Regions from separate parts of the Homo sapiens genome. Here regions 2, 3 and 4 are each linked to region 1. The links come from fine-mapping of genetic effects on gene expression. A gene starts in region 1. Each other region holds a variant in brackets. All regions are shown on one strand. Distances are between the middles of the regions.

Region 1 (5,150 bases):
GAAAAACTAACAACTTTCCCTCTAAGGTGAGGACTGGGACAAGGGTGTCCACTCACCTCTTCTATTCAACATTATACTGGAGGTTCTAACCAGGGCAATTAAGCAAGAAAAAGAAACAAAAGGCACCAATTAAACAGGAAGAAGTAAAAATATCTCCATCTCCACATCCAGCCTCTCCACCTCACTAAAACTGAAGCTGAACAGGTGACAATATATCTGTTATTGGAAGGGTGGAGTTGTCAACTTGCTCTTTAAAGGCTCCATTCACCTGCCTTTTTTCTAACATCTCTTCTTGTTTTCAGGTCCTCCAGCTCGACTGGCACTATCACAGAGCTCGGGTTCCCCTTTCAGTGACCAGAAACTTGCTTGTTTTCTTTGCTTGCTGGGCAGTGAGGAGGTTCCTCAAAGGGACTCCGCTGTAGCACATGCTTGCATTCTCACTGTTGGCTCTGATGCAGGACCTCCACACACTGTGGGTGACAGCTCTTAGTGTACAGCTGCTGCCACTGCCCACCCACATGCCCTACACACGCAAACACACACACACACACACACACACACACACACACACACACAGTTTGTAGAGCCTGAGGGCTTCTTCTGGCTGCGGAGATAAGCACCTTTATTGGCTGTCTTCCCTTCCTGCTTGCTCACCTGCCTGCCCCAACCCTCAATCTCTGTGTCCTGATGTGGCTTCTCAGGTGACCTACTTGCACTGGAATCCTTGTCTCAGAGAAAGCTTCTGGAGAATCTAAAACTATGACAGATCGTCATACTAGATCATGGAACCAATTTAGTGGCTCTTGACCAGTGAATTAATAAAAAGGAAATCAGGGCCGGGCATAGTGGCTCACACCTGTAATCCCAACACTTTCGGAGGCCGAGGCAGGTGGATCACTTGAGGTCAGGAGTTTGAGACCAGCCTGGGCAACATGGTGAAACCCTGTCTCTAGTAAAAATACAAAAATTAGCCGGGCATGTTGGTGCATGCCTGTAATACCAGCTACTCGGGAGGCTGAGGCAGAAGGATTGTTTGAAGCTGGGAGGCAGAGGTTGCAGTGAGCCAAAATCTCACCACTGCACTCCAGACTAGGCGACACAGGGAGACTTCATCTCAAAAAAATAAAAAAAAGAAAAAGAAAGAAAAGAAAAGAAAGAAAGAAAGAAATTAAATACAATAGGAAATAGAGTGCACTCTGCATTTGTTTCCTTTTCAAGAAAACAAATGGGTCATGTAAACTGCATCTCTTAGGATGGAACAAAGACAAAAATATTTAGGGAAACTCTGCTGTAAAGATTTTTCATTGTTTTTTAAACAACTGTCAGGTCAACATATGACCTTTGAGGGGAAAAAAAATGCTCCACTTGTCTATAATACACTAAGGAGAGGCCAAAAAGCAGTGCTAGGTTTTTCTGGATTGGAGGATGTTTCCCCACTCTCCACCCCCCGATTTTGTGGTCATTTAATTTTCAAAAAATTTGCAATAATTATCCTTGTAAGAGTCTGTTGAGAATGAGTTCTTTACACTGCTAATGGGATTATGAACTGAACTGCTGGCTTTCAGTCAGCAACCCTGTAAATCCCTGGATTTATGCTAAGAAAAAAGAACACAAAAGAACCACAATGTGACATGCAGAATAATGCACGCTGCAATGTTACACATTCAGTTAAAAAGTGAAAGCAACTTCCATGTCTGCATTGGAGAGGCCAGTGTTCCTGGGAAGAGAGGCTTTCAAGTTGAGTTTGCAGAGCACTTCGCAGAAAGACTGAGGAAGAGTCCACCGTTTATATCAAAAACCTCCTGGAATGCTGGTGAAGACTGGGGGCGCTTTAGGTGCCTCCGTGGCAGCTCCAACGAGGAAGGAGCTGGGACCCCTGCTCCTCTCAGCTGCGCTCTGTTCTCCCGAGAGGCTTGCTGGAGGGCGAGCAGTTCAGCAAGAACTCAAAACAAGGGCACAGCTCTCACACGGATTCCAGTACTCACTGAAAACGGCTCAGCACAAAAAAAGCACAGAGTCTTGTTGAATGCCACTGGGAGACAAAGCGGGGAGGGAGGTGCAGGCAGTTAAGAGGTTCCAGAAAGGGAAGTGGTTGGCAACGGTTTGTCCTTTTAGTGCTTGACACCCAAGACCACAGCAGGCCTGTGGCCAGCGGGGACACAGTCCACAAGTGGGGGTTTTTAACAGCTTGTTCTTAAGAGAGCTTCCCAAACCACAGAGTAATGAGCACTCAGGTGTCTCAGGCCCACGGAGGATTTAATAGATGAAACCCTGGATCGTCTCGAAGCCGTGGTTGTTAAGAAGTTTAAATATATTGACCGGAAACGGGGAGAAACCAGAGGGTGGAAGAGCCGCTCGCACTGCGGTGCGATCCCTGAGGGCTCGGGGCAGGGGACTGGGGACCGAGCAGGAGCTGGCGGGGTGAGCTCTGCGAAGCGGGCGTGAGACCGAGCGCCCATGGGCCGGTCACGCCGGGTGCCCGCTCACCCCCCGACGCCAGCAGGAGCGCGCGCGCAGGCCCCGCGGGGCCGGGAGGGCGGCACGGGCGGGGCCCCCGTGCTCTCACCGCCCCGGGGTGTGGTTCCCGCGGACAGGCCGGGCGGGGCGGCGGGTTTAAGGCGCCGGCCGGCCCGACACGGCTCACTCGCGCCCTTGCCGCTGCCACCGCACCCCGCCATGGAGCGGCCGTCGCTGCGCGCCCTGCTCCTCGGCGCCGCTGGGCTGCTGCTCCTGCTCCTGCCCCTCTCCTCTTCCTCCTCTTCGGACACCTGCGGCCCCTGCGAGCCGGCCTCCTGCCCGCCCCTGCCCCCGCTGGGCTGCCTGCTGGGCGAGACCCGCGACGCGTGCGGCTGCTGCCCTATGTGCGCCCGCGGCGAGGGCGAGCCGTGCGGGGGTGGCGGCGCCGGCAGGGGGTACTGCGCGCCGGGCATGGAGTGCGTGAAGAGCCGCAAGAGGCGGAAGGGTAAAGCCGGGGCAGCAGCCGGCGGTCCGGGTGTAAGCGGCGTGTGCGTGTGCAAGAGCCGCTACCCGGTGTGCGGCAGCGACGGCACCACCTACCCGAGCGGCTGCCAGCTGCGCGCCGCCAGCCAGAGGGCCGAGAGCCGCGGGGAGAAGGCCATCACCCAGGTCAGCAAGGGCACCTGCGAGCAAGGTGGGCACGAGCGCTTCCCTCTCCAACCCTGCGCCGCTCGGCCCAGCGAAGGGCACATCCGACGGGGCGTCCGCGGCGGCCTCGCCCCGCGCTGCTCACTGCGATTCCCCCGCGGGCATCCCAGGAGCCAGATGGGAGGGAAAGAGTTGGCAGCCGCGGAATGCCAGGAGCGGTGGGCGACGCCCCCCCTTCTCCTTTTTGGTGGTTTTATTTTGAGAGTTTGCTGCGTGCGTCCAGAAAGTGAGGGCCGGGTGTATATGTAGAAAAGATTTTCCGAGACCTCAGACTTCCCCATGCCCAAAGCGCACCCAACTCGTGCTAACATCTGTCCATTTCTCATCATTCTTGGCTTGGGGATGTAGAGAGAGGTGAAGTCAAGAGATGGGGGAAAGGAGTTTGACAATTAAATATAAAGTAAGGACTTCCAGACAGACTTTTTTTTTTAAAAGATAGGATCTTGCTCTGTCGCCCAGGGTGGAGGGCAGTGGCACGATCTTGGCCCACTGCAACCTCTGCCTCAAGCGATCCTCCTGCCTCAGCCTCCCAAGTAGCTGGGACTATAAGCCTGTGCCACCACGCCTGGCCAATTTTTGGTTTTTTGTTTTGTTTTGTTTTGTTTTATAGCGACGGAGTTTCACTATGTTGCCTAGGCTGGTCTCGAACTCCTGAGCTCAAGTAATCCCGGCCTGCTGGGATTACAGGCATAAACCACCGTGCACAGCCCTGATTTCTTAGTATTGAAGAAAATAGTCCACTTTCTAAAAATTATAGGTTCTCAAACAGTAATCTAACTAGCTAATTATTTGTGGGCAAAAATAAAATACAAACTCTTTGAAGACTGTTTTTGTGATGCACTTTGTTGTCAACCTTCTGACCATTTTGTTTTTCCTTCCTATTTCTTTGATTTGTATTGTTTTGCATAATTTGTCCCCAGGATACACTGTTCAGCAGAAATGTCTTTGAGATTATGTTTGATTGTTTATTTTATTCCAAACAAGTCCAAGCTTGCTGTAAATGAAATAAGGAAATAGGCCGGGTGGGTTGGCTCACGTCTGTAATCCCAGCACTTTGGGAGGCCAAGATGGGCAGATCACGAGGTCAGGAGTTCGAGATCAGCCTGACCAACACGGTGAAACCCCATCTCTAATAAAAAATATATATATATACATTAGCTGGGCATGGTGGTGCATGCCTGTAATCACAGCTACTCAGGAGGCTGAGGCAGGAGAATCGCTTGAATCTGGGAGGCGGAGGTTGCAGTGAGCCGAGATCACATGACAGCACTCCAGCCTGGGTGACAGACAGAGACCCCATCTCAAAAAAAAAAGAAAGAAAGAAGAAAATAAAGTCTGGACTTGCAAATACACGCACATACACACACACATAGAAATTTTAACTCTAATGCCTGAAATAACATTTTCCATTGGCAGTATTTTCAAGGGAAAGTCAGACATTCAATGTTGGCAGCTCCTGATCTTAGCCAAGGTAGAAAAGGGAGAGGAGGCAGTTCTGAGGTTACAGAAGCTGTTGCTTCTTTAACACAGTTCAGACTTTCTCCAGAATTTCCAAATTCTTTCTTTAGAGCTTTTCCCAGAAGTCCACAAACTAATAGGTTGTATGTCATCAATTTCAGAGTTCACTATTGAAAGCCTTAAATTGTGTAACTCACTAGTAACTATTTATAGTATCATCACCTTAAACTTAGAAAATTGCAACCCAAAATAATCTGCATATGTTTACAATAGAAACAGTTATTTGTTACTTTGGATCTCATTTGTCGGTCACATCATGAAAAGATAAATGTGCGTTATTTAAGAATTTATTCCAAATATTGAGATTTTCTTATAAACATTACAATGGGGAACTTTATAGTTTTTTCAAAATGGCAGATACTTGCCTTATCAGAGCAGAAGGTTAGCTTGGTGATTGTTCAAGTGTTGTCAATTTCTAGTTTATACTTAATATTCCTTTTTCTCACCTGCTACTTACATCACCAAAC
Region 2 (5,150 bases), 21 kb after region 1:
TAATCCTCACAATAACCCTGTGGTAAAGTATTATCCTCACATTGTATTAATAAATTAGGCAACCAAGATTCAGTGTGTTTGAGTGTCCAAGCAGAGCCACTGCTAATGGGAATTGAATGAAGCTGGAATGAGGAATCCAGGTGAGTTGGTGTGTACACGGACACACACACATGTACCCACATTTCAATCCAAAGGAAGCTAAAATTGAGTGTCAGAAGCAGTTAAACATAAATATGCTTCACTCACTCATTCATTCATTCATGGTTCTTCCATTCCTAATCTTGTATCTCCTACATTAAATTCCCTGCATAGTTAATACTCTGCATTTCCACAGTCTCCAGTTACTCTGGTCATTACCAGTATGTGGAAGTGCATATGCTTTTGCCTGTTTTGTTCAACCGTGTGTGTGTTTTTGAAGAAACACATCCAGAGACTCTAAGGCTTTGTTTTGGTAAATTAAAGCAACTTAAATTCCAGGTGTTGGCAGTGGCAGTTGTCTAACATAGCATGATAAAATTATCCCCCAGGTTCCTATATGCGTGGTTAATTACAGGTGATCCAACTCCCAAAGAATACACATGGCCTGGATCTCTGAGCTCTGCTGAATAAAATAACCAATGTATAATTTCATTTTCTGTGAAAAATGTTAACTAAACTAGAAAAGGTGATCAAATAAACTGTTGCTCTCACATGTTTTGTTTTGTTTTTTTGAGATGGAGTCTTGCTGTGTCACCTAGGCTGGAGTGTGCAATGGTGCAATCTCAGCTCACTGCCAACCTCTGCCTCCCGGGTTCAAGCAATTGTCCCACCTCAGCCTCCCAAGTAGCTAGGATTACAGGCGTGCACCACCACACCTGGCTATTTTTGTGTGTGTATGGGTATTTTTAGTAGAGACGGGGTTTCACCACATAGGCCAGGCTGGTCTCTAACTCCTGACTTCAAGTGATCTGCCCGCCTCAGCCTCCCAAAGTGCTAGGATTACAAGTGTGAGCCACCATGCCCTGCCTTCTCACATGTTTTCTAAAAATAAAACCTCTATCACTGAAGAGCATTAAGAACTTTGTGAGGAACAAATTAACTGTTCAGTCAGTTTGAATAAAATTGAGTGCTCTGGGGAGACTTTATTGTTGTTTGTGTGTGTGTTTCAACACTACAGAATAAGATGTGACTGTGACCCACTAAGTCCTTAAAAACAATAGGGTATATCATAAGAACTAGAAAGCCTAACTTCAGACACTGACAAGAAAGCAGGAAATACTACGTTTCTCATGGTAGCAAGACTCAGGAAATTCTTACGCAAACAAAGAGTGAAGGAACAGTTGACGGCAGTTTTCTGAATCAATCCCTCAACATATAAGGAGATGGTGGGATTTGGGGAAGAGGAAGAGAAGAATGATGACCAAGAAGGACAATAGCTGGTCTATTGGTAAAGAATGTGTTCAGCTGCAAGTAATAGAAAACTTGGCTCTAGTGGCTTGGCCAAAATGGGGTTTATTTGCTTGTAGAACAGGGAGTTTAGGTGTAGATGGTTTCTGGTGTGGCTTTAACCACTCAGCAGTGCTGTCAAGGACCAGGGTCCTTTCACTCTTTCTGCTCTATCATCCTTTGCATGTTGGCTTTTGTATACATGCTTAATAATTGCAAGAAGGCTTCTGCACCTCAGATCATCGTCATCATTAAAGACATTTAGAAGGAATAGAGAAAAGGACAATGCCAGCCACATGTCCCATTATATCAGGTGAGCAAATGTTTCCCAGAAGCCCATACTCAGCAAATTTCTGCCTAATCTCATTGGCCAGAAATGATCACTGGGACACCCTATTGTCAAAAGAGACAGAGAAGGGGGTGGTGGACACTGGGGCTGAGTCAGCCGGCTACATTGTCTGCCATAGCTGGGCAGCAGTTCTTTTTAGCTTTTCATTTCAGACACAGTTGCTGAAGGTGAATTCAAAGGGTGACTAGAAGCTTAGTGTTTTAGAGACCACAGACCCCATCAGACTTCACTGAAGTGTGAAATCAGATGATAAAATAGGTCATAGCTGGGGGGAAAAATGGAAAGCTTTGTAGCAAATATGTCTTTCCCAAAGTTCAGTGGAAAGAAGTCCTATCTGAAAGATGTCAAACCACATAGAGTCCATTTTGAAATGACATTTCACTCTTTCCTTCACAGAAATAATGGCTACCAGAATTGAGGGTTCCTGCCTGATTTAATTTAATATGTGGAAAGGGATAATTTTAAAATGAACTCAAAAACAGAAAAAGTTATAATTGTATATGGATAGATGCAGTAAAACTGCTTTAAAAAAGTCTACTTTCATTTTTATAAATTGTATAAACTTCAATTCATCCTCAGATCTAAGTAAGGTGAATTTCTAATTATTGTAGTGTTTTTAAGCTTATTTAAGTCATACATGTTATGGAGATTAATGTTTTGGAGAGGGTGGGGTTCAAATCCCCACTCCCCCACTTACTAAATGTGTGATTATTAAATGACAAGTTGCCTCTCTTTTTTTTTTTTTTTATTTTTTTGAGACAGAGTCTCACTCTGTTGCTCAGGCTGGAATGCAGTGGTGTGATCTCCACTCGCTGCCACCTCTGCCTCCCAGGTTTGAGCGATTCTCCTGCTTCAGCCTCCCAAGTAGCTAGGATTACAGGTGCCCAACACCACACCCAGCTAATTTTTGTATTTTTTTGGTAGAGATGGGGTTTCAGCACGTTGGCCAGGCTGGTCTCGAACTCCTGACCTCCAGATGATCCGCCTGCCTTGACCTCCCAAAATGCTGGGATTACAGACGTGAGCCACCGTGCCCAGCCAGCAAGTTGCTCCTCTTAACCTCAGTTTTGTCATCTTTAAAGTGGGGACAATATTGCTTACCCAAAGGGTTGGTGAGAGTATTAACTTCATATGAGGTTCTAAGCATAGTGCTTGCCACACAATAGGGTCTCAATCTGGCCGTTGCTTTTATCATTAGTAGTAGTGGCTAATGCTTCAGAAACAGCCCTCAAATGTCATACTATGGTACTTTTACCTTCATTCTTCCCTCTTTTTCTGGAGGGATAACTAGAGATGGGATGAAGGGTAGAAGCAGAAACTGAGAGTGGTAGGAATGATTGGATGGTATTATATGGAGAAAATGAGGGCTGTTCTTGCCCAAACTGGTCGGAAC[C/G]TCAATATTTTTATATACTTACAATTTATAGCCTACCTTATTTTAACATTATATTTGTGGCAGTTTACATCACCATGCTTTTCAGATACAGCAATAGTGCTGTAAAAAGCACTAAACTGCCTGGGCATGGTGGCTCACACCTCTAATCCCGATACTTTGGGAGGCTGAGGCAGGAAGATCACTTGAGACTAGGAGTTCAAGACCAGTCTGGGCAACATAGTGAGACCCTGTCTCCACAAAACAAAACAAAACAAAAGATTAGCCAGGTGTGGTAGTGCATATCTGTAGTCCCAGCTACTCAGGAGGCTGAGGTAGGAGGATCACTTGAACCTAGGAATTTGAGGCTGCAGTGAGCCGTGATTGTGCCACTGCACTCCAGCCTGGGTGACAAAGCAAAGCCCTGTATCAAAATAAACATAAAGTACTAAACTTAGAAGAAAAGAGTCTGAATCCTCCTGCCTCAGCCTCCCAAAATGTTGGGATTACAGGCATAAGCCACCACACCTGGCCAAGCATCTGAATCCTGACTATACATTGACTAACAGTGATCATTGGCACATTGCTTAATCTCTTTGTCCCTCTGTTGTCTCACCTGTGAAATGGAGCAAGCAGGACCTGTATTAAAGGATTAGGGTTAGGGTTATGGAAATAAACGAAGTCACAGATTTGAAAGCCTTTGTAACTGTTAGGCCTTTATGAATCCAAGATTGTATTCCCTCTGACTTTACCAACTATTGTAGTAACAACTCTCAAATATGCCCAGTCAGTTAACTGATATAACCTTGCGTATAGCTGTGTCAGTTATTTACTTTTTTCCTATATACCTCTGGTCCACTCCTCCCCTTCAAATCACTATCAGCAAGTAGTGCCCAGGGACTCCTGTGTTATAACATTAGCCAGAACCAAACAGTTAGTAAGGAATCTGCTACAACAAATTTATACAGAGCAAAATATAAAGTATTTTAAAATTGGCATCCTTTTGAGATAGTCTGTTCCTCTCCTGCCCTTCATTAGTTGGGTACTCAAGGGTTGGCAGTGTTTTCCCATCTAGAAGCTCATGCTGCATATTGACCTGCAAAGGTATTAGTCCAGGTACCAATGGCAACTTTTATGTTATCCATCAATCACTTTAATGAGTACAAGAAAGCATCCTATCACCCTGCCAAAAGACAGAGGAATTAAGAATGACTCATTTATCACTTAAATGTGTGAGTGTTTTCTATGTGTCAGGTGCCATCCTGGTGCTGTGGGGCACAGAACACAGACTCCAGTTTCCAGGGGGTTACCGTTAAATGGGGCTGAAGCAGCAACAGTGTGTCGGTCTCCTGTATTCAATCTCCTCATAATAACTGAGCCACTAGATCAGGAGCAGTGGCTCACGCCTGTGGTCCCAGCACTTTGGGAGGCCGAGACAGGTGGATCACCTGAGGTCAGGAGTTCGAGACCAGCTTGGCCAACATGGTGAAACCCAGTCTCTCCTAAAAATACAAAAATTAGCTGAGCGTGGTGGTATGTGCCTGTAATCCCAGCTGCTCAGAAGGCTGAGGCAGGAGAATCGCTTGAACTTGGGAGGCGGAGGTTGCAGTGAGCTGAGATCGCGCCACTACACTCCAGCCTGGGCAACAAGAGCGAAACTCGGAATCAAAAATAAAAATAAAAAATAAGATGGTAAAATTTGTATGTGTATTTTACTACAATTTTTTAAAATTAGAAAACAAAAACGTAAATCCTCTAGATACCAAAACCCAAGCCCCATGGAAAACATTTACCACAAAAAGGTGACAAGCTATCCCCACAAATGCCAAAATATAAGTGGGTTGGAACAAGCCACCTATGCCACCAAGCCTGCAGGCTGTCAGCAGCTAGGTGGAAAGACACAGAGGGCAGTAATGAGGTGATGACAGATCCAATAATAGGTAAATCTCAACATAGCCAACAGGTTTTCACTGGAAAGTCCATTAGTGGGTGAGTGCAAGGGACCCA
Region 3 (5,150 bases), 30 kb after region 1:
AGGGAAATGGGGACCTTCCTGCACTATTGCCAAGACCAGAATTCCTAACAAGCTTTTCAAAAGTAATCTAGGAGTATTTATTAAAATTAAACATTCTCATACCCTTTGACCCAGCAATCTTATTTCTGGAAACCTCTCCTACAGAAACAAAAGTGCTAACGCATAGGGACATAAGTATTAAGAATATTTATTGTATCATAGTTTGTATATAGAAGAATTTGGAACATCTGGAATATTCTTAAAGAATTATGCCCATGTTTGGGGACATTTTGCAGCTATTGGAAAGAATGAATTTGATTTATGTGTATTGAACTAATAAAGCTAATACATAATACATGGATTGTTCACTGAAAAAAAGGCAGTTTAAGCCAGGTGTGGTGGTGTACACCTGTAGACCCAGCTACTCAGGAAGCTTGAGGCCAGGAGTTCAAGATAAGCCTAGGCAACATAGACAAACCCTGTGTCTTAAAATAAAACTTTAAAAAAAATTTAAAGCAGCTTGCATGTTAATAGGTATGAAATTTTCATTAAAAAAATAAAAACTATATGTATAAACAGTTTATATAAGTTGTTGGGGGGTTAGGATTATCAGGAGGTAAAAGTAGACAACTTGCTGCTTCTTTATATATTTGTATATTTGAATTGTTACAGTGAGCATGCACTTTTGCATTTTTTAAATAGCAACAAAATATTTTAAAAGAATACTGAACCACTACATCATTGATATTCCTCATAACTAAATTTCGAAGGTTCTTTTCTTTCCTTCTTCTAATTACCAAAAACTTGATTCAAATTTAAAACTATACACTCATAGATCTAGAATGATTCTGGGGTGATATTTCAGTTCATCATTAACCTTTCCCTAACCACTTCCCTGTATCATCTTAGTCTAAGAGATTTCAAACATGGCAACTCCAAAGACGCAGGTCCCAGAAGAGCTCTCTGAGACCGCGATTTGGGACCCACACTGGTCAAAAGAGGAAAATCACAGAGCATCCTTTGTAAACTCAGCCTTCTCTCAGGAAAGTCTTTCTTATTATAACTGATATTCCTTGGGCTGAAACTCACACCTGTTCCTCCACTTCTGATGTAGAGACAAAGAGGATTCTTGACCCCAAAGGACCTCCTAGATCATTGCTTCAACCTTTCCATTTTACAGATGAAAAAACTGAGGACTAAGTAAAATGTGGGGAGAAATGGTACCAAAACCCACTTCCCCTACTTGCTAATCAGTGCATTTTCTGTTGCTCTAGTAGTACCTTTCTTTCTCACACACCAGCATCCCCGAGTCGGTTCTACAACAGTGCCTTTCACCTGGTAAGCCAAAGTCTGTTGGATGCAAACTGTTTACACAGAATCCCAAGTAGAAGCTAAGTTATCAACGTCAAAGGACCAGGAAGGCAGGGTGATTCAATTGCAAACCCAAAGCAGCAGCACTTTGGAGCCAGAATAGAACTCTGAATAGTCCTTTATTTTGTGCTGAGGACCTAGAACTTCCACTTTTCTTTCTCTGGAGCCAGACTTCATGCTGGGGCTTTGTTTTAAAATCAAGGCCCCAGCGGACTCAGAACTAAGGAATTTTTTTCACACATATTCAAAACGGAAGCCCTGCCACCATGGGGAAGCTCAAGGTCCTTGCTCAGCTTCTGCTTGTGTTTGGGCTACATGAAAATCTCTGGGTGGTGGTTGATGTTTCCCGCACCAAATGATTTCTGCACAAGGCCCGACATTCCCCCTGCCCTGATAGAAGGGTCACACCACACACCAAGAAGGATGTGACTAATAAAGAGTGTGACTTCAGAGAATTTACAAGTCCAGACAACTTCTGATAAACATTTAAACAGAGGTCAGGAATGTTTTCCTTTCTGAGGGGAAAATATGTGGTCTATGGTGTGAGTGGGAGGGGCTGGTGGGGGGTAAATCTAAGCATTAGCTTCCTCCCTTCATAATTCTTAAGCATTTTAACAGCTGTCATTTTTAATGCCCTAACAGGCTTTCAGACTTAGAACCCATAGCTGAGTATGGGCCAGAAAGCTCTGTGAAAAAAAAATGGGCAATTCCAAAGTGATTACCAAGCAAGTTTAAAACTAACATTAGGATCATTAGAGGCACTTTCCCTGGGCCCTGCCCTGAAGCTAAGAATGTTCCAGAAAGTATCACTCAAGGCCCATTTTAAGTACCCAGGTTGGGATCTTCACTTCCCCTGCTGACAAAAGGGGGAAGCTCCATAGAGGAAATGGGTGTTGACTTCCAGGAAAGGAAAGGTGAGAAGGACCAGATGGCATCTGTCAGCATCCTCAGCCCACCGGAGACATTCTGAGAACATTGGCCAGGGCCAAGGAGGAGAGA[T/C]TGATGAGCGGAAGCCAACAGAGATATCCCCTTGGCAGTGGAAAGGAAAGCTGCAGGTCGTTTTTGTGACCCAACACACTTTCATTGGTGGTGCTGATCCAGCTAATGTCTTTTAGCATTTTCCTTTTCATTGGCTGTTTGGTTTGTCTCCTGACATTTCCTGGATCGGTGTGCACGGTAGGCATAGGGTGAGTGAGTAAGACTAGTATTCTCTCTGGTCAGTTCTAAATAAAAAGTAAGAAAAGAAAATGTCAGCCAGGTGTGGTGGTGCACATCTGTAGTCCCAGCCACTTAGGAGGCTGGAGTGGGAGGATCACTTGAGCCTATGAGTTAGAGGCTGCAGTGAGCCATGATCATGCTACTGCACTCCACCCTGGGTGAAAAGTGAGATCCTGTCTCAAAAAATAAAATAAATTTCACTCAAAATCTTCCTCTAAATGGGAAGATGGGGACTCAGTATTGGAAGAAAGGTTCTGATACCAACTTTAGGAAAACCCTTCGTGTGTCTGCAATCAATATTCTTTTGAATATATCAGCTTCCGTTGTTTCAGCTATAACCCCTGTAGGCTGGAGCACTCGGGCAATGTGAGTAGAATGCAGCAGTGTCAATTTCCCTCCTTTGAATCTTAGACAGGTAGAGAAATTATCTCATTTTAAAGTCCTAAGTATTCCCATACTCAGTTTTAGACATTTCTTGCTTTTCTTACTGAGATAAAGTATGTTATTTTGAAAATCCAGTCTTCAGAAATCTCATTCACTTTGTCATTGGTTCATTCATTCTTGTAGTCATTCATTCATTCAGGTACCCACCAAGCCCTGTGGGAGACCCTGTGTTGGGCTAAAGGGCCATGTCAATAGGCCATCACTCAGAAAACCGTGGGAATCGTGGTCAGGATGGAAGTTCTAGAGTCAAACCTACCCTGAATCCTGGCTCTGCTTCCCATGTGCTCTGTGATTCTGGGCAAGTTATTTAACCTCTCAAAGCCTCCAATTCCTCATCTCTACAATGGGGTAATAAGCATAGCCACTTAACTAGATTTCTGTGAGGATTACCTGAGATAATATATGGATGAGCCTGCACTGTGCCTGGCATACAGTAAACTCAGTAAATGATAATAGAGGCAATGGTAAGGACAGTAGTAACTTTTATTATTAACAATTATTAATGAGACAAATAGCATGAGAGTGATAGGAAAAGCGCTGTTAGATGTTGGACAGAAGATAACTGGGAAGATTTCATATAGAATTTGACTTACTAGATTTTTTTCACTTGAGGTTTAAAAAAAATCTTAGTGGAGAAATTGGGAAATTCCCTTTCCTTTGCATTTCATTTTCTATTACTTTCCTGAAGACTGAAACTTCAGTGTAGAATTTAGCTGAAGGCTACATCCCAGCATTTGCATTGGCCTTGGAGTGCCAGGGTAATTATTCTGTCAATTATTTGACTTTTTAAAGTCTGTCTACCTTGAAGAACCTCTGCAAAGGAGGACCGTGTTAATGTGTAACACAGAGATAAGCAAGGCTCTGCTCTTTTTTTTTTCCCATGGCTGTTCAACTGGAAAACTGAAATGGTTCTATTTGCGTCTCAGCCAGCAGTGTTGAAAGGTGGGGGATAAATGGCTTTTACTAATGAAGTACAGTGGGATGTGAATTTTAGCAATGCAAAATGCCACGTATCACCTGCAATTTGTTTTTTTAAAACACACACACACACACCAAAAAAGGGAAATCACAAGACAACATAAACCTCGCTTGAAGAAACGATCGTGTTTAACAAGAAGACAGCAAAGAGAAATACTCTGAGTTGAGCCAAGTAGATGTGTGCTGCTTTTGTAGATGGAATAAATGATCCTCACTTGCATAGACAGCAAGGTCATTTTTCTCACCCTAAATGGAAGGCATTAATCATCAGCTCTGAAGAACAACATTCAGGACAAGAAGAAACAAGCCACCGCAGCAGGAGGTATTGAATTGAGCCAGAGAACTGGGGGCCCTGTGGACGGGAGCCAGCTCAGCCCAGGTAGCAGCTCCCAGATCAGCAGGGGTGGGTGGTGGAGCTGGTCCTCTTGAGCCCTAACAGCTTTGTTGGGAACTTTCTATTGTTCAAGAAATCTCCTAGTTACCATCCATGTGCATTTCTGAAATGCCTGACTGTGCTCCGGGCTCTGTAGGCTCTGGATTAGCTGGTTCTCTGTGGACCCCGTCTGCATAAAAAGCAAAGATCAAAGGAACATGGTAGAGCTCTTTAAAAAAAAAAAATCCTAAACTCACAAGTGAATGGGAAATGCATATTTATATCACTGGCCCATCAAGGGTAAGGGTGTTCTGTGAGAGGGGAGGAAGAGAAATCATTAAGCAGGAGCGAAGCTCTTCAGATTAAGAGCTGGAAGAACTGCATTGAAGACTAAGAGGAGACTGAAGGCAAACAGTGGATCTTTTACCATTTTTCTTTTTTTTTTTTAGACAAGTTTGAAATCGAGTTTTACCGCTTTCCCATCAGCTACACCAAGTAGTTTACTTGTGCAGTGGCTAATTAATTTGTTGAGGCAGAATTTTAGGTTACCTATGAGGTAATATGGAATAGTGGTTAGGAGGTGTCTAGCTTTTTAATCCCAGCTCTATCATTTATGAGCCTTGTAGCACTGGGCAAGTTACTCGACCTTTCTGTGTCTCAGTTTCCTCCTCTGTAAAATAGGAGACAGTACGAACCTCACAGGGCTGTCGTGAGGGTTAAATTATTTACACATATGAATGCCCATAGTGAGCAGTCAGTGAACAGGTATTGCTGTTGATTTTGTTAC
Region 4 (5,150 bases), 57 kb before region 1:
AAGGTGATGTGTGGCAAATCCTTGGTTTGATTCACCCGACCATGCTCCATCAGTTTGACCTCTGGGGAAGCTGCAGCCTCAGCAGCTAAGGTCAGCCACATAAGTGTTCTTTTCCTATGTCACTTACCCCTCATAGAAACCCTGAACACCAAGACTCAAATTGGCAATACTTTATGCATGTTGCCACACATCAGTGCTGGGGGGATTAAGTGGTATCCATGTGACCCCACTGGGTGACAACATCTGGAAGCTTCTGTCTAATTTCTCCTTGACTCTACTCTGTATATCTTTTTTCTTTGTTGATTTTAATCTGTATCTTTTGCTCTATAAACCATAACTGGGAGTATAACAGCTTTTCTGCGTTCTCTGACTCCTTCTAGTGAATCATCAAACCTGAGGGTGGACTTGGGGACCCTACACACACTTCCCAATGGCAGCCTTTGGGAAGGGGTGGCTGTGAATGGCAGCCTTGTTGGAGGACTTAGAACTCAGAGAGAGTTAGAGCCCAGAATGGAGGTTAACTGCAAACCTCCTTCTCTGTGGCTATACAGAACTCCTGTATTACAGACCCAGTGGCCTCTCACTGGTACCAAGGGAGAGCCAAATCTGCCTGCCAGGGATGGGGTTGTCATTTGAAACAAATAGGACGGATCTAAGTAAACTTATTGGCAGGATCTATAGTTCTAATTGTGAAAGTAATACATATTTGTTGTCAGAAATCTGAACAACAAAACAAAATAAAAAATAAAACAGTCCATTGGAATCCCACCACTCAAAGGTAGGCATGGCTAATATTGTGGTGTAGTTCTTAATAGTCAATTTCTTTTTCATGAATATGTAGCAGTATCCCCAATGAGACAGAATTTTAAACTTTTAGCAAGAAAATCTGCAAGTTAAAAGTTGCCAGCCACTTCCATGTCTAACAAGTCATCCTGGGACACATTTTTTTGTTCTGGAAACAATCACCCAGGCAGTTTCTTTTAGCTTTGCAAATTTAAGGCAGAGGCGCTCATCGACCAAAGGCAGGAATGTTAGTCACAGGCAATGTTTTTTCTCAGCTCCCCATTTGTTCCCCAGGATACCAAGGCCAAATGTCACTGGGAAGTACTAAATAGTTGAGCCCATTTGAGAGGGGGGCTAGAAGCCTCCTAGGAGAAAACAAATCAAGACTCCCAACTACTTCTCCTTAGGTTCACTCGTTTCCAAACATCTCTGATAAGCTCAGTGGGTCCTCTGCAGGAGCCTGGATTACTAAATTGTTGGTGTTAGTGGGGAGGTGTTGTAGGTATAGCACATTGCCAAGGCTGGAACCTTCTACCGCAGCAGCCACTGCAGCCCCATGGGCATGGTTTGAGAATCGTATATATGAGGACAAACTAAGAGGCTGAAACATTGAGAACCCAGAGCCGTGCTGGCATAAGACAGTGAGAAGAGGTCTCTTCCCAGCTCCGTAGGAACTATCCCCTGACCAGCTGTGACAGCACAGACAGTGATAGCTCAAGGCTGTGTGGACAGCTGCTTTTAGCAGGCACTGGTGTTAGGGAACAGCAAATGCAGCCCACGGTGGACCCATCATATTTTCCAGTGCTGTCTCTACAAGGGATTTGGGAGTATCACTGATCCTTTAGCCTGAATAAACTGGGACTGTGGAACCTTAAATGTATCACAGAAAGGAAAACACTGGGAAAGAGAAACGAGCATGTTAATGCTGATAAATCTATGCATGCTACCATCCTGCAGACTGGTGAAAGCTGTTGGCTACCCAGCCTTGGGCCATTCCTGTCTGCGCTGTCACAGCTGGTCAGGGGATGGTTCTCATGGTGCTGGGAAGAGGAGATCAATGACTCAGTTCAGTGGAGACATGTGACCATTTCATTTTTTTTTTTTTTTTTTTTGAGACGGCGTCTCACTCTGTCACCAGGCTGGAGTGCAGTGGCGCAATCTCGGCTCACTGCAAGCTCCGCCTGCCAGGTTCAAGTGATTTTTCTGCCTCAGCCTCCCGAGTAGCTGGGACTACAGGTGCATGCCACCATTCCCAGCTAATTTTTTGTATCTTTAGTAGAGACAGCGTTTCACCATGTTGGCAAGAATGGCCTCCATCTCTTGACCTCATGATCCACCTGCCTCGCTCTCCCAAAGTGCTGGGGTTACAGGCGTGAGCTGCCGCGCCTGGCCACATGTGATCATTTCTTACACCCCAAGTTGAAGCAAAAGACATAAGCAACACAAAAATACAAATACACACAATTTGCAACAAAATGGTATTAAACTGCATAATGCTATATGTTTTTCCCCACTTAATATTATCTATCAAGCATTTTCTAATGACATTAAACATATTTGTAAACATAATACTACTAGGTAATGACAATAGCTAAAACTGATGTAGCGGTTATTTAGTATCTACTATGTGAGGCAGTATTATTAACCCCATATGCTAGATAAGAAAACTGAGGCACAAAAAGTTTACGTAACTTGTCCAATGACCTACGGCTAGTAAAAGAAGCTAGCATTTGAACCCAAGTAACCTTCAGTGCTAATGTTCTCATTTTTTTTTAACACATCGCATATTTAATCATTTTCCTACAGTTGCATATTTCTTCTTTCCCATGTTTTCACTGCTATAAATATGCAGTGATAAGCATCCTTATACACAAAGCTTTGCAAGTCAATTAAAACTTTTAACATAAATGTAGAACTTTACATTTGTTTAATTCCATCACTTTTAATTTAGACCTGCAAGATTGTCTTAAATCTTGATTCTGCAATTCAAATGTTCCACTTGTCCTCTCAGCTTTGCATCATTCAGATTTAACTGACCTATTCTTCTAAACAAATACTTTATCTAAAGCTTGACCTGGACAGGAAAAGATCCAATGGCTTGGCTCCTGTCTCTCTCACTAGCTCATCTCAGTCTTCTTTTGATGCCCTATCACACAGTCTTCCAGTTCCTCAACCATACCATGTTCTTTCAGGCCACGGGGCCTTTGCACATTCTGCTCCTTCTCCTGCAACCCCCT[G/C]CTCTCACCTGGTAAATTCCCAGTAGTGCTCTGCATCTTAGCCAAAGCTGAGGCCAGGGGGAGTTCTTTGTTATACACTTTCACCGAACTATATTCTTTTCCTTCCAAATGGGAAATTTATGCACTAGGTCATGAAATCATCTGATTAATAGCTGTCTCTCTCCCTCAACAACAGACTCTATGATAGCAGGGGCCATGCCTACTTCCTGCCCATGTTATCCTTAGCACCAAAGCTGTACAGTTGGCCCTCTGTATCTACCGGTTTTGCATGCATGGATTCAACCAGCTGCTGATAAAGACCCAGTGACACCGAAGGCCAGCTGTACGTACATATTTTCCATTCTTGGTTGGTGAATCTACCAAATGGCCAACTGTTCTATGCCATTTTATGTAAGGGACTTGAGCATTTGTGGATTTGGTACCCTCGGTATGGTGGAACCAATCCCTGAGGCTGAAGAGGACAGACTAAACTGGGCCCTTGGAGACATTTAATGAATGTTTGCTGGATGAATTAATGAATGAATGCAGCACCCTGTGGCTCAGTAGTAGAACCATGACCCTCCGTGCTAATGGTGAGCATGCACGGATTCATCAGCCCTCCTTGAGGACAATGCTTCAATCAGTTAAAATGTACAGCCTGCCTGTTCTTCTCTAAGCCCCAGGATATTGCTAGAAAGTTTATCAGCTGCAGCTGAGTTCAGGCGATGTGACTGACCTCCTCTGCTCTCTCCTCTTTCCAGGCATCCTCTATTCAGTCTGCGGTTGTCCTTCCAAAGGCAGCTAATATAAGACTCCCTGATTAAAAGCTTCTGTGGCTTCACAGTGTCCTCAGGATCAAGTCCAAGCTCCTAATCTTGACATTCAAGGTCCTTCACATTCTGGCCCTTGCCTCCTTTTTCCCTGTCATCTGCTGCCACTGACACCCCCAACCCCAACCCCAACCCCATATGCATACAACAAAGATACTCCACAGTACTAAAAGTCTTCCTATACACCATGCACTTGTATTCTTTTGACACTTTGCTCTCTTTCCCTAGAATGCAAATCTCTCTTCTCTGTCTGACAAACTCCTACTCATCCTTCAAGGTCCAGCTCAAAAGTCACCTCCCCTTTTGAAGTTCTCCCTGGCTCCTTCCCACCCTCATCAAAGGCGGAGTTAATTTTCCCTTCTCCTGTATGTATTCATGTGGCATTTTGAACTTAATTCTATGTTAGTGCCCGTGCTATGTTCAAGTGCCTGTGTTCCCTGAGGATCTCCTTGAAGGTAGGCATCTTATCTTACTCAGTTTTATTTCTCACCTCAGCCCTTTCCTTAAATGCTTATAAAATAAGCATTCCATAAATACTTGACAGGGTTTGTCTTTTGGTATTATCCCACTCCACAAGTCTAGTGACACTTGCAAATGCATTTGACTTTTGGAGTCATGGCTGACCAACCTGCTAAGATCCAGCAATAGGTGGGATGTGGGGATTTTCAGGAAGGGGAGTGGTAAGTTCATGGGAATGTGGAATTTAACCTCTCTGCTTCCCCGACCACCACAACAGCCACTAACCTCCCAACTCTGCCAGCCCAGTGGAGCTGCCTGCTAAACCTTGCTGATTCTGTCAGCAGCCCGTCTTCCCTTTCCTTCCTTTTCATGTCCTCTGCTTCTTCATGAATTAGCTACAGTTCTGCACTGGCTCAAGATGAAGGGGCTATGGACAGAATATAGAAAAACCTTCATAGGCCAAGCACAGTGGTTCACACCTGCAATCCCAGTGCTTTGGGAGGCCGAGGTGGAAGGATCACTTGAAGTCAGGAGTTCGAGACCAGCCTGGACAACATAGCAAGGCTGTCTCTAAAAAAAAAAAATAATAATAATAATTTAAAAAGTTTAAAAAGAAAAACCTTCCAAAATTAAGAGACTGTTGAGTTTCTTGAGGAACGAAACAGAGCTTTCTGGGGCACTCTGGCCCTCTCCACTACCTCTGTCTGCTCTGTCCTCCTCCTACCTCAGCCTGCTCCCTCAGGCAACTCATCTTTTACACACCCCTTTGTCTACAGATTCTTCGCTACAGAGAAGCTACAGAGCTCTCCATATTTTCACCAGACCATTCTTTTCAACATTCCAGTCCCAAAATCTCAAAAGA

The links. PIP is the estimated chance that this variant, and not a neighbour inherited with it, causes the effect. A credible set is the group of variants that fine-mapping cannot tell apart.
Region 2: its variant is the best candidate, but not a certain one, in a credible set for the expression of IGFBP7 in subcutaneous fat (TwinsUK, PIP 0.53).
Region 3: its variant is the best candidate, but not a certain one, in a credible set for the expression of IGFBP7 in monocytes (TOPMed, PIP 0.64).
Region 4: its variant is the best candidate, but not a certain one, in a credible set for the expression of IGFBP7 in whole blood (TOPMed, PIP 0.57).

Annotation. Positions count from the first base shown.
Region 1 is chr4:57,107,878-57,113,027 of GRCh38, reverse strand. IGFBP7 (insulin like growth factor binding protein 7) reads left to right here and starts at 2,643. Exons shown (of 5, transcript NM_001553.3): 1 at 2,643-3,151. The coding sequence starts at 2,677. It overlaps IGFBP7-AS1 (IGFBP7 antisense RNA 1), which reads right to left and starts at 3,266. Exons shown (of 5, transcript NR_034081.1): 1 at 3,058-3,266. RefSeq lists a silencer at 2,505-2,574.
Region 2 is chr4:57,086,411-57,091,560 of GRCh38, reverse strand. The region is part of intron 1 of IGFBP7 (insulin like growth factor binding protein 7); the gene reads left to right. Among named protein-coding and RNA genes, the nearest start is that of IGFBP7-AS1, 21 kb to the left of the region's middle. The variant C/G (reference allele first, on the strand shown) is at 3,168.
Region 3 is chr4:57,078,145-57,083,294 of GRCh38, reverse strand. The region is part of intron 1 of IGFBP7 (insulin like growth factor binding protein 7); the gene reads left to right. Among named protein-coding and RNA genes, the nearest start is that of IGFBP7-AS1, 29 kb to the left of the region's middle. The variant T/C (reference allele first, on the strand shown) is at 2,350.
Region 4 is chr4:57,165,065-57,170,214 of GRCh38, reverse strand. All of the region lies in intron 1 of IGFBP7-AS1 (IGFBP7 antisense RNA 1), which reads right to left. Among named protein-coding and RNA genes, the nearest start is that of IGFBP7, 57 kb to the right of the region's middle. The variant G/C (reference allele first, on the strand shown) is at 3,021.